Linked DNA regions of Homo sapiens: region 2 is linked to region 1. The links come from fine-mapping of genetic effects on gene expression. A gene starts in region 1. The other region holds a variant in brackets. All regions are shown on one strand. Distances are between the middles of the regions.

Region 1 (5,362 bases):
CGAGTAGCTGGGATTATGGCTGTGCCATCACACCTGGCTAATTTCGTATTTTTAGTAGAGATGGGGTTTCACCACGTTGGCCAAGCTGGTCTCGAACTCCTGACCTCAAGTGATCCACCTGCCTCGGCCTCCCAAAGCGTTGGGATTACAGGCATGAGCCACTGTGCCCGGCTCTGTGTTCTAAATAAATGGCGCAGGCGTGTATGCGCTCTGTTTCTGTGCATTCCCATGTGATGTCTGCCTCCCCCTTCCCAGAACGCACCTGGTGCCTCAGGACATAGCCCACGGGGGGTCCCAAGGCTGGCCAGCCCTGGCTTCAGCCCCCAGGGACTCCCTTCAGCTTGTGAAGCCACCTGTTGCCACTGGAGGCTTCAGGGCCTTTGCACAAGTGCCCTGGGCAAGCTCCTGCCCCCAGATAGTGCCCCCTGCGAAGGCTGGGGTGGGGGAATCTGGTCCTCACAGCTGCACCCAACCAGGTCTCTTCTAAAGTTTATTAGAACAGTGTGTTCAAACTCCCAGCCCCGGCTTTTTTTCGTAACCACTGAGCAAGCAAGCAAGCACAGGGGAAGTGTTGAAGGAATGAAAGGAGAGAAGTCAAACACAGTGGCCTGCCTGCCTGCTTGTGGTCCCAGCTACTCTGGAGGCTGAGGCAGGAGGATCGCTTGAGCCCAGGAGGTGGAGGCTGCAGTGAGCTCTGATCGCACCACTGCACTCCAGCCCGGGTGACACAGTGAGACTCTGTCTCCAAAAAAAGAGAGGTTCCCTGGCAGCCTCCAGGGCCAAGCAGGCTTCCAATTTGGGCTTCCAAAGAAAGAGGGTTTGTGATCACCGAGAGCCCTCAGGTGGTTGCCGCTTTGATGGGGGAGGTGGCTTCCCTATCCCCCTCCACCCATGTTTGCCTCTCCCTTTGGGCCCTCACCCCAGGTAGCCTCACTCTTGGGGGCATTTCATCTTCAGCAGCCCCTCCGCACACACTTTCTGACCCTGGCTCCAGGCCCTATCGCTGGCCTGGACCCGCCCTAGCCTCGTCGCTGAACTCACCCCTGCCACTTCTTCAGTAAGGATCCCTGAGCCCCTGCCACCTGCTGGAAAGAACCCTGCGGGCTTCCTCTTGGCCTTAGGGTGGTCTCAATGGCTATAACCGCCTCTCCCCAGCCTGGTGCTCAGCCCTGCATCTGCGCCTAGGAGGCGCTCGTTGAACGTGTATGGGATGAATGAACGAACCCAGGACACGGATCAGACATGACTTACATAACCGCCGTTACCTGTGGTCCTTCCTCCTGCACTCTGCCACGCTGGCCGCACCAGCCTCAGCCCCGTCAGGTCTGCAAGGCCCATTCCGACCTGACCCAGGCCCACCTTTCCAAGAACCCTTCCAACCCCGCCCTGCGGTGCAGGTTCTTTCTGCTCCCTGACCAAGCCCGGCCCGGCCCTGCCCTGACACCCTCTTCCCTTTCAGGCTCCGCCCCTGCACTGGCACTGCTCCCTAAGGCCCTCCCAAGGCCCTGCCTTCTGTCCTGGACCCACCCTGAGCGCCCTCCTACCCTGACCCTGCTCTGCGCGGCCCCGCCTTCCTCCTTTGTAACGGCTCCGGATCCCAGCCCCGCCCCTACCATAACACTGCTCCGCAAGGCCATGCTCAACCCCGCTTCCCGCTCTGGCCAAGCCCCTGAGTCCTGGCCCCGCCCCTACTCTGACTTTGCTCAGCGAGACCCCGCTCGTCCTCGCCTTCCTTCTAGTCCCTTCCCCAAAGTCCCGGCCCCTCCCCAGACCCAGGCACTGCTCCCGAGCGTCTTCTATCCCGGCCTGTTCTGCGAGGCTCTGCGAGGCCCCGCCCTTCGGCCGTGACCGCGTCCCTGAGGCCTGGCCCCCATCCTGCTCGGCCGTGCTCCGCTCGGCCCCACCCTCGAGGCCCCGCCCCTTCTTCGCCTTGGCCCCACCCACCCCCTCCAGGCCCCGCCCCCGGCCCCCTTCCGGGGTCCGAACTGGCTCCACCTTCGCCTTGGCCGGGCCCCGAGGCCCCGCCCCGAGATCCCGCCCCCCGTTTCAGGACCGTTGGCACCGGGCTAACGGTTCCACCACGTCCGCCGCCCTGGACGCCCGCGGCCTGCCCCCCCCTGCCTCTCCTGCGCCGGTGAGCGGCGGGTGCTCCCACTGCTGTGCGTCCCCGGGAGCCCGCGCACCCTCTCTGGGCTCCACCCAGGCTGAGAGCTGGGGTCGTGGCGGCGGGGGTGGAGAGCGCGCCCCTAGAGGTTCGCGCGGTCGGGGCCCCGGGGCGGGTGCAGACAGCCCTGGACTCTGGAGCCCTGTCCAGGGCGGTCCTGTGCCCCTGCGGCTGCGGGAAGACGGGGTGGGGGGCTTCCGAGTAATGGGGCATCCCAGTTAGTGAGGGGGCAGGAAGCCAGCGCTGTGTCCGTGTCTCTTTCTGCCCCCAGATACACTTCGAGTGGATTCTGGCCATTTGAGCATTCTCTCCAACTCTCCAATCCCCAGTCTGCCCCCACGGGGGTCTCCCCCACCTCTCCCCCGTCCCACAGCCTAAACCCCTCTTCGCCCTGAACCTCCCTTTTCCTCATGCGGTGAATGGGCACTGGCCCCGCTCAGACTCCCAGGAGCACCAGAGCTGGCCCTGAGCCAAGCCCTGCCCCACCAGGACCTGGGGACACGGGTGACTCAGACGTGACTCAGGAAGGCTCAGGTCCTGCTGGCATCCGCGGAGGTGAGACGGTGATCAGAGCTGGGATGGGAGACTCCCCAGGCAGAGGGGCACCTGAGAGGAGGCACAAGGCCCAGCCTGGCCGGGCTAGGAAGTATGAATGGAGACCAGAAGGGTGAGGACGGGTGCATCGGGTGGCCGGAACACAGGGGCAGGGGCTTGGCGGGGAGGGCACTGCTAGAGAGCTGGCAGGTGGGGGGCCAGTTGCTGGCGTCTAGGGGTGGTTTGCCCATCCTCATAGGGGGCCAAACCAGGGCCCCCGGTGCAGGGCTAGAGCCAGACCCACATTCCTGAACCTGCTAGTGGAGAAGATTCCAGGATCTTCTGACGATGTCCGTCTGCCTCCATCGCCCCCATCAGAGTTTGCTGCCCAGCCTGGGGGGGTGAGGAGGGGAGTGGCCATGCCTGACCCTCATGCTGTGTTTTGAGATATAACATATAGCCCGGGGGTCCCATTCAGTCAGTGAACAGATGACTGAGCCCCTAAGCTGGTGCCACATGGGGAGAGGGGCAGGAGGCCGTCAGTGAAACCAGGAGGAGGTGAGAGTGGTCCTTTCAGGAAAAGCGAGGTGTGGGGAGCAGTGGCCGGAGGCTGGCATGGCCAGAGGCTGGCATGGCTGGCGGTAGAGTCCTTCTAGGCTGTACTGGCGGGAGGCGACCAGGGTGGCTGGCGGGGGACACTGGCAGATGGGCTGTTGCAGGTTTGAGGATCATCTTGGGGTCCCCTAGGTCTCAGGATGTCCAAGGCAAGACACACAGCCTATGGCTGGACATTCAGAGCCTGGCGGGGAGGCTGCAGATGAGTGTGGGAGGTAGCATTTGAGAGGGTCGGCCCCTAGGCTGTGAGCTCCTTGAAGACCGAGTGGTGCCCAGCAAGGGCTGGGGTCACTGCTGTGACCCGGGGCCCTTCTCTCCCACAGCCCCACCAGCATGGGCAGCCTCGGCCAGAGAGAAGATCTCCAAGATGAGGACAGGAACTCAGGTGCTGATCCTGGGCAGAGGGGGCGGTGCAGGTGGGAGGGATTATGAAGTTCAGGGCTGGCCAGGCGTGGTGGCTCTCCCCTGTAATCCCGGCACTTTGGGAGGCTGAGGCGGGTGGATCACTTGAGGTCAGGGGTTCGAGAGCCTGGGCAACATGGAGAAACCCCGTTTCTACTAAAAGTACGAAGATTAGCTGGGCGTGGTGGCGTATGCCTGTAATTCTAGCTACTTGGGAGGCTGAGACAGGAGAATCACTTGAACCCAGGAGACCCAGGAGGTGGAGGTTGCAGTGAGCTGCGATTGTGCTACTGCACTCCAGCCTGGGTGACAGAGCGAGACTCCATCTCAAAAAAAAGAAAAAAGTGCAGGGCTGAGGCTGAGACGGGCTGGGGCCCCCAGACCTGCACGTCAGGCCTTGCCTAGGATTCTCATTTGGTTTCTAGTAGTCTCCAACCCTAGTACTGACTGGGTTTGGGGGATTTGGCTCAGGATTTGGGGGCTGCATGCCCAGAAAGATCTGGGCCGCCAGCTGGATGTATGGCCTTGGACACCCAAGAGCCCATCACCAAGCCTCAGTTTACCCCCCTCTGTAAAATGTACAGGCCTGAACGGTCTCCCAGGGCCTGTTCTCTGCGTCTCAGGACAGGCCCCTGGCTGGGGGTGTGGGTGGCCACTCTCGGAATCCACTTGTGCCGGCGCCAACTATGGGCAGGGTCTGGTAGGTCCCCAGGTGGTGCCTGCTGCCCGACTGTCTGTTTACGGGCTCTGACATCTCGGGCCTCCCCAGTGCCTGGGTCCCACGGGCCCCATGAGCCCTCCTCCGGGCGGTCATTAGGGGTGTTTGTCCTGGGCCTCGAGCTCCAGCGACGCCCGGCTCTCTCGCTGCAGCATTCACCTGGAAGGTCCAGGCCAACAACCGTGCCTACAACGGGCAGTTCAAGGAGAAGGTGATCCTGTGCTGGCAAAGGAAGAAATACAAGGTGGGCGGCCCCTCCCGCGCCTCCCTGCTCCAGAGGAGCTGCCGTGGTACCCTCGGGGAATCTATTTTTTGCTCCTCCTGAGTCCTGCCTCTGCTTGTATTTGCTCGATAGTTTTCTTTTTTTGGTTTTCGTTTTCTTTTTCTTTCTTTCTTTTTTTTTTTTGAGACAGAGTCTCCCTCTGTTGCCCAGGCTGGAGTGCAGTGGCGACATCTCGGCTCACTGCAACCTCCACCTCCGGGGTTCAAGCAATTCTCCTGCCTCAGCCTCCCAAGTAGCTGGGATTACAGGCATGCACCACCACGCCTGACTAATTTTTGTATTTTTAGTAGAGACAGTTTCACCATGTTGGCCAGGCTGGTCTCGAACTCCTGATCTCAGGTGATCCACCCACCTCGGCCTCCCAAAGTGCTGGGATTACAGGCGTAAGCCACTGCGCCCAGCCTCTTTTTTCTTTTTTCTGTTTTGTTTTAAGATGGAGTCTCGCTCTGTCGCCCAGGCTGGAATGCAGTGGCGAGATCTCGGCTCACTGCAACCTCTGCCTCCCGGGTTCTAGTGATTCTCCTGCCTGAGACTCCCAAGTAGCTGGGATTACAGGCACCCACAACCACGCCCGGCTAATTTTTTGCATCTTTAGTAGAGATGGGGTTTTGTCATGTTGGCCAGGCTGGTCTGGAACTCCTGACCT
Region 2 (5,362 bases), 27 kb after region 1:
TCTCCCCCGGCTCAGCCCCTGTATGAAGGATGGTTCCTGGCTCTTTTCAACCTCCTGTACAGCACCCTGCCAGTTCTCTACATTGGGCTCTTTGAGCAGGTGAGCAGGGCAAGGCCGGGTCTTCCTTCCAGGTCTCTGCTTAGCCTCTCCTCCTCTCCTCCGCTCCTTGGGGCGGGGAGAGGGAGCCTGGGAGACCTTCAGGCCATGGGGTGGGGCTCAGGGGGTGCAGTCCAGTACCTCTCCCTGCCCACTGCCATTGACCTTCTCCCACCGGAGCCTACGCTCATCCCGGGGCCATCCAGCTCCTCCTGTGTGTGGGAGCCCCCACCCTGTGCTGGAGCCCCCGTGCCTCTGTCTACCCATCCATGCAATGGGGAGAGAGGATCAGAGCAGATGACTCTGCTAGGTTTATCATCCCCCAGCTCCAAGAGGCCCTGGCTACGTGATCTGGGGTTGGGAGGGTGGGTCACATGGAACGTTCCAGATGATGGAAGTGTCCCACAGCTATGCAATCCAACACAGAAGCCAGCAGCCATACGTGCCCATGAGGAACGCTTGTGTTGCGGCTGGTGTGACCCAGGGACTGGATTTTACATCTCATTTCATGTTTGCTAGAATCTTTTTTTTTTTTTTTTTGAGACAGGGTCTCGCTCTGTCGCCCAGGCTGGAGTGCAGTGGCACAATCTCAGCTCACTGCAACCTCTGCCTCCCGGGTTCAAGCGATTCTCCTGCCTCAGCCTCCTGAGTAGCTGGGATTACAGGCGTGCACCACCATGCCCGGCTAATTTTTTTATTTTTAGTAGAGACAGGATTTCGCCATGTTGGCCAGGCTGGTCTTGAACTCCTGACCTCAGGTGATCCTCCCACCTCGGCCTCCCCAAGTGCTGGGATTACAGGCGTGAGCCACCGCACCTGGCCTTGCTGGTATCTTTAACTGTGGTGGAATACAAATCACGTAAACTGCCCCGTCTCAGCCAGACTCATGCGCACAGCCCAGCATCACCTAGTGCGTTCGTGTGGCCAAGTGACCAACCTCCAGAGCTCTTTCCATTTCATTTTATTTTATTCTGTAGACGAGGTCCCATTCTCTCACCCAGGCTGGAGTGCAGTGGTGCGATCACAGCTCACTGCAGCCTCCACTCCTGGGCTCAAATGATCCTCCTGCCTCAGCCGCCCAAGTAGATGGGATTACAGGTGCGCACCACCACACCCAGCTCCTTTAAAAGGTTTTTTTGGAGATGGGGGGTTTCACTATGTTGTCCAGGCTGGTCTCAAACTCCTGGCCTTAAGCGATCCTCCCACCTTGACCTCCTAAAGTGCTGAGATTACAGGCGTGTGCCACCGTGCCTGGCCTTACTTTATTTTAACTCACTTAAACTCAAAGAGCCACACACAGAGAGTGGCCACCCTACTGGCCTGCCCGAGGAGATCCTGATCTCTGTTGGGTGTCCCCCGCCCCCCACCCAATCCCAAGAGCTTCTGCTTGCCCCAAGGACGTGAGCGCAGAGCAGAGCCTGGAGAAGCCGGAGCTGTACGTGGTGGGGCAGAAGGACGAGCTCTTCAACTACTGGGTCTTCGTCCAAGCCATCGCCCATGGTGTGACCACCTCTCTGGTCAACTTCTTCATGACACTGTGGATCAGCCGCGACACGGCGGGACCCGCCAGCTTCAGCGACCACCAGTCCTTTGCGGTCGTGGTGGCCCTGTCTTGCCTGCTGTCCATCACCATGGAGGTGGGCAAGGTCCTCACCTCCCCGGGGCCTTGGACATGGCCTATGGAGGCCTCCTCCCCTGGGGACCCCTGCTTTGGGGGCATTGCCAGGTGCCCTTCCTGGACCCCAGGGGCTGGTGTCCTGGTGCAAGCCCCGCTAGGCCCCGGATTTACCCCACCGCTGCCTGTCCAGGTCATTCTTATCATCAAGTACTGGACCGCCCTGTGCGTGGCGACCATCCTCCTCAGCCTTGGTTTCTACGCCATCATGACTACCACCACCCAGAGCTTCTGGCTCTTCAGAGTATCCCCCACGACCTTCCCGTTTCTGTGTGAGCCCCCATGGGGAAGTGGGACGGGCGGTCGTGGTGCAGGGGAGCCCCGATGGAAGAGGTTGCAGGTTGCTCATGACAGTCGTCCGGCAAAGTGTCCTGGGGAAGGCGCTCCTTTATGGACCAGGCACAAAGGCACCAAGGCGCTCCCTAGCCTGGGGGCATCCTTGGAGCTGGGGGTAGGCTCTGCTGTGACCCCGCCCTGTCCCCAGATGCCGACCTCAGCGTGATGTCCTCTCCCTCCATCCTGCTGGTGGTCCTGCTGAGTGTGTCCATAAACACCTTCCCTGTCCTGGCCCTCCGAGTCATCTTCCCAGCCCTCAAGGAGCTACGTGCCAAGGTGAGGTGGGCCTGGGCCTGGGGTCCTCATCTGGTACATTCCAGGACCCTGGTTGGGGAGCCGTGCAGGGCGTAGGGACTGCAAGGTGTCCCGGCCCCTCTCGGCCCTCCAAGACACTAGGCTTGGGGGAAGGGTGGGTGCGGAGCCCCGGACACACGCCCAGTGCCCCCGGGGCCCGATTTCCCAAGAAGGGAGACCTCACTCCCCCGACAAAGCAGCAGAGAGCACCCAAACGCCGCCCTGGATTCCAGTGCTGATGCCATCGGGCTCTTAAGGTTTTATTTATTTATTTATTTTTACTTTTTGAGAAGGGTCTTGTGCTGTCACCCAGGCTGGAGTGCAGTGGCACAATCTCGGCTCACTGCAGCCTCGACCTTCCGGGCTCAAAGGATCCTCCCACCTCAGCTTTCCAAGTAGCTGAGACCACGGGCATG[T/C]ACCACCACGCCCAGCTAATTTTGTAGTTATTTTCTAGAGATGGAGACTCATTATGGTGCCCAGGCTGGTTCAAACTCCTGGGCTCACGCAATCCTCCTGCCTTGGCCTCATAACATGTTGGGATTTCAGGCATGAGCCACACTGTGCCTGGCTGACACCATCAGATTCTACCGTGAATGATCTAGAGCTTGGGGGTTGAGATGACGGAAACAACCTTGAAATGGTTTAGGCAAAAGGAGGAACTTAGAAATAAGAGTCTGTTGACAGATGAGTGGGTCAACACGGCACGCTCCATCTGTGCAATGAAACACGCCTGAGCCGTGAGAAGGAGTGAGGCTCTGACACAGGCCACAGCGTGGATGCACCTTGAGGACATGTGCTCAAGGCCAGGCGCAGCGGTTCACACCTGTAATCCCAGCACTTTGAGAGGCTGAAGCAGGTGGCTTGCTTGAGCCTGGGAGGTTGAGGCTGCAGTGAGCTATGATTTTTGCCACTGCACTCCTATCTGGGCAACAGAGCAAGACCCCACCTCAAAAAAAAGGGAGGGGACTTACTAGCCCACGTAACCAAAGCATGCATGGAAAAGCAAGTTGCAGCTGAGATGGGCCCCAGAATTGACTGGAATGGTGTACCTGCCCTGCCACCTCTGTTCTCCCTGCCCAGCTCCTGCCACCTTTACTGCACAGGCTGGGCACCTGGCTGTCCCAGGCTCACCTCTCCTGGATTTGCCACCAAAGGGCAGCCAAGGCACCTGGTGGCTGGTCCAGAGTCGGGGAAGGACTCTGATTGGCTGAGCCAGGGTTAAGTCCCAGGGAAGGACTCTGATTGGGTGGTCCCGAGTTAAGTCCCAGGGAATAACTCTGATTGGCTGATCCAGGGTTAGTTTCCAGGGCAAGGCCAATTAGTGGGTCTTGAAAAGCAAAGGACTAGAGTCCTCCTTAGAACTCAACACTGAGAGTCGAGGACTCTAATTGGCTCAACTTGGGTAGGGAAGAACGTAGCCAATCAATAGTGGCCAAGGGCTTTGAATCCTGCCTCTCCTACTTGGGGGACCTGAGAGCCATCAGCCAAGCATAGGAGTCTGCTTCCCCTGCTCTCCCCTTTGCTCTTCAGGAGGAGAAGGTGGAGGAGGGCCCCAGCGAGGAGATTTTCACCATGGAGCCCTTGCCTCATGTACACCGGGAGTCTCGTGCCCGCCGTTCCAGCTATGCTTTCTCCCACCGTGAGGGATATGCAAACCTCATCACTCAGGGCACAATTCTGCGGAGGGGACCAGGGGTCAGCAGTGACATAGCATCTGAATCCCTAGACCCATCTGATGAAGAGGCAGCTTCGAGCCCAAAAGAGTCACAGTGACACCTCAGGAAGATGTCCTTCCTGGGGAAGAAGAAGCACCAGCCACAGGGGCAGGTGTCCTCCCAGGAAGTACAGCTCCCCCCTACACCTAGCTCATCATTTTCTATGGATAGACAATCCGCTCTTCATCCAGAAAACCAACCTGCCCTCCCCAAATATGTGCTCACCAGCAGCAACAGGCTATCTGAGTCTTTCCAAGAGCAATTGCCAAGGGCACAGGAGAGGTCATTGTCACCCAAGCAGAGGCCACCTTCTCCTGAGAAGTTGCTGTTGACCAAGGAGAGGTCACATTCTTTTCAGGAGAAATCACTGTTGCACAGAGAAAGCCAGCTGTCGTCATTTGAGAGCCAGCCACAGCCTCTGGGGAGCCAGTCATTTCTTTCAGGCCAGCTGACGTTGGAGAGCCAGCCAGACTCCTCGGAGGAGAAGTCAGCATTTTTGAAGCCCTCCACACCGTTCCGGAAGAGCTGGCAAAAGGAGCCTCACACCCCCAAGGAGGGGACGGTGCCACTTCCAGACAAGACCCACAAATCTCAGGTGGAGACTCTGCCACCAAGTCTGGAAGAATCGTCCACGTCCACGAGCGAGCAGCCTATGGAGGTGGAGCTGTGGCCCGCGGAGAAGCAGTCATCATCATCCATGGAGTGGCTGCTGGTGCCCGGGGAGGAGCAGCTATCCTTGCCCCCAGAGGAGCAGTCATTGCCCTCTGCGGAGGGGACCAGGGTTCAGCAGTGACGTAGCATCTGAATCCCTAGACCCATCTGATGAAGAGGCATCTTCGAGCCCAAAGGAGTCACGCTGGCATATCAGGAAGATGTCCTTCCTGGGAAGAAGAAGCTCCAGCCAGTTCTGCTGCAAGTCAACCAGCATGCAGGGGGCCTTCCTCTAAAGACAAGGACTCCACATGCTTTTCTTTTTCTAATAAACCAGGGTCCATCTGACCCCAGCGCTAATTCAGGCTCCCTCTTTCCCTACACTTTTTTTGTGATGGAATATTCCTTCCCGGTTTTTAAAATCAAAACACTGACCTCTAGTGGTCCAGCCGGGTATTTGCAGGGAAAACTTTCCTTCTTCATGCTGGGGTAAGATAATGTGGGTAAAGCTTCATTGCTCTCAAAAGTTGCTTATTAAAAGCTGTGGCTCCCCCGCTGCCTGACAGCTGGCCCCTCCCAAGAAAGTTTATAAATT

The links. PIP is the estimated chance that this variant, and not a neighbour inherited with it, causes the effect. A credible set is the group of variants that fine-mapping cannot tell apart.
Region 2: its variant is the best candidate, but not a certain one, in a credible set for the expression of ATP8B3 in lung (TOPMed, PIP 0.76).

Annotation. Positions count from the first base shown.
Region 1 is chr19:1,808,958-1,814,319 of GRCh38, reverse strand. It overlaps ATP8B3 (ATPase phospholipid transporting 8B3), which reads left to right and starts at 2,044. Exons shown (of 29, transcript NM_138813.4): 1 at 2,044-2,134; 2 at 2,436-2,831; 3 at 3,637-3,698; 4 at 4,586-4,677. The coding sequence starts at 2,584. RefSeq lists enhancers at 1,251-1,410, 1,791-2,536 and a silencer at 1,961-2,330.
Region 2 is chr19:1,781,840-1,787,201 of GRCh38, reverse strand. ATP8B3 (ATPase phospholipid transporting 8B3) reads left to right here. Exons shown (of 29, transcript NM_138813.4): 25 at 16-99; 26 at 1,494-1,733; 27 at 1,905-2,043; 28 at 2,256-2,383; 29 at 3,932-5,127. The coding sequence ends at 4,174. Among named protein-coding and RNA genes, the nearest start is that of ATP8B3, 28 kb to the left of the region's middle. The variant T/C (reference allele first, on the strand shown) is at 2,818.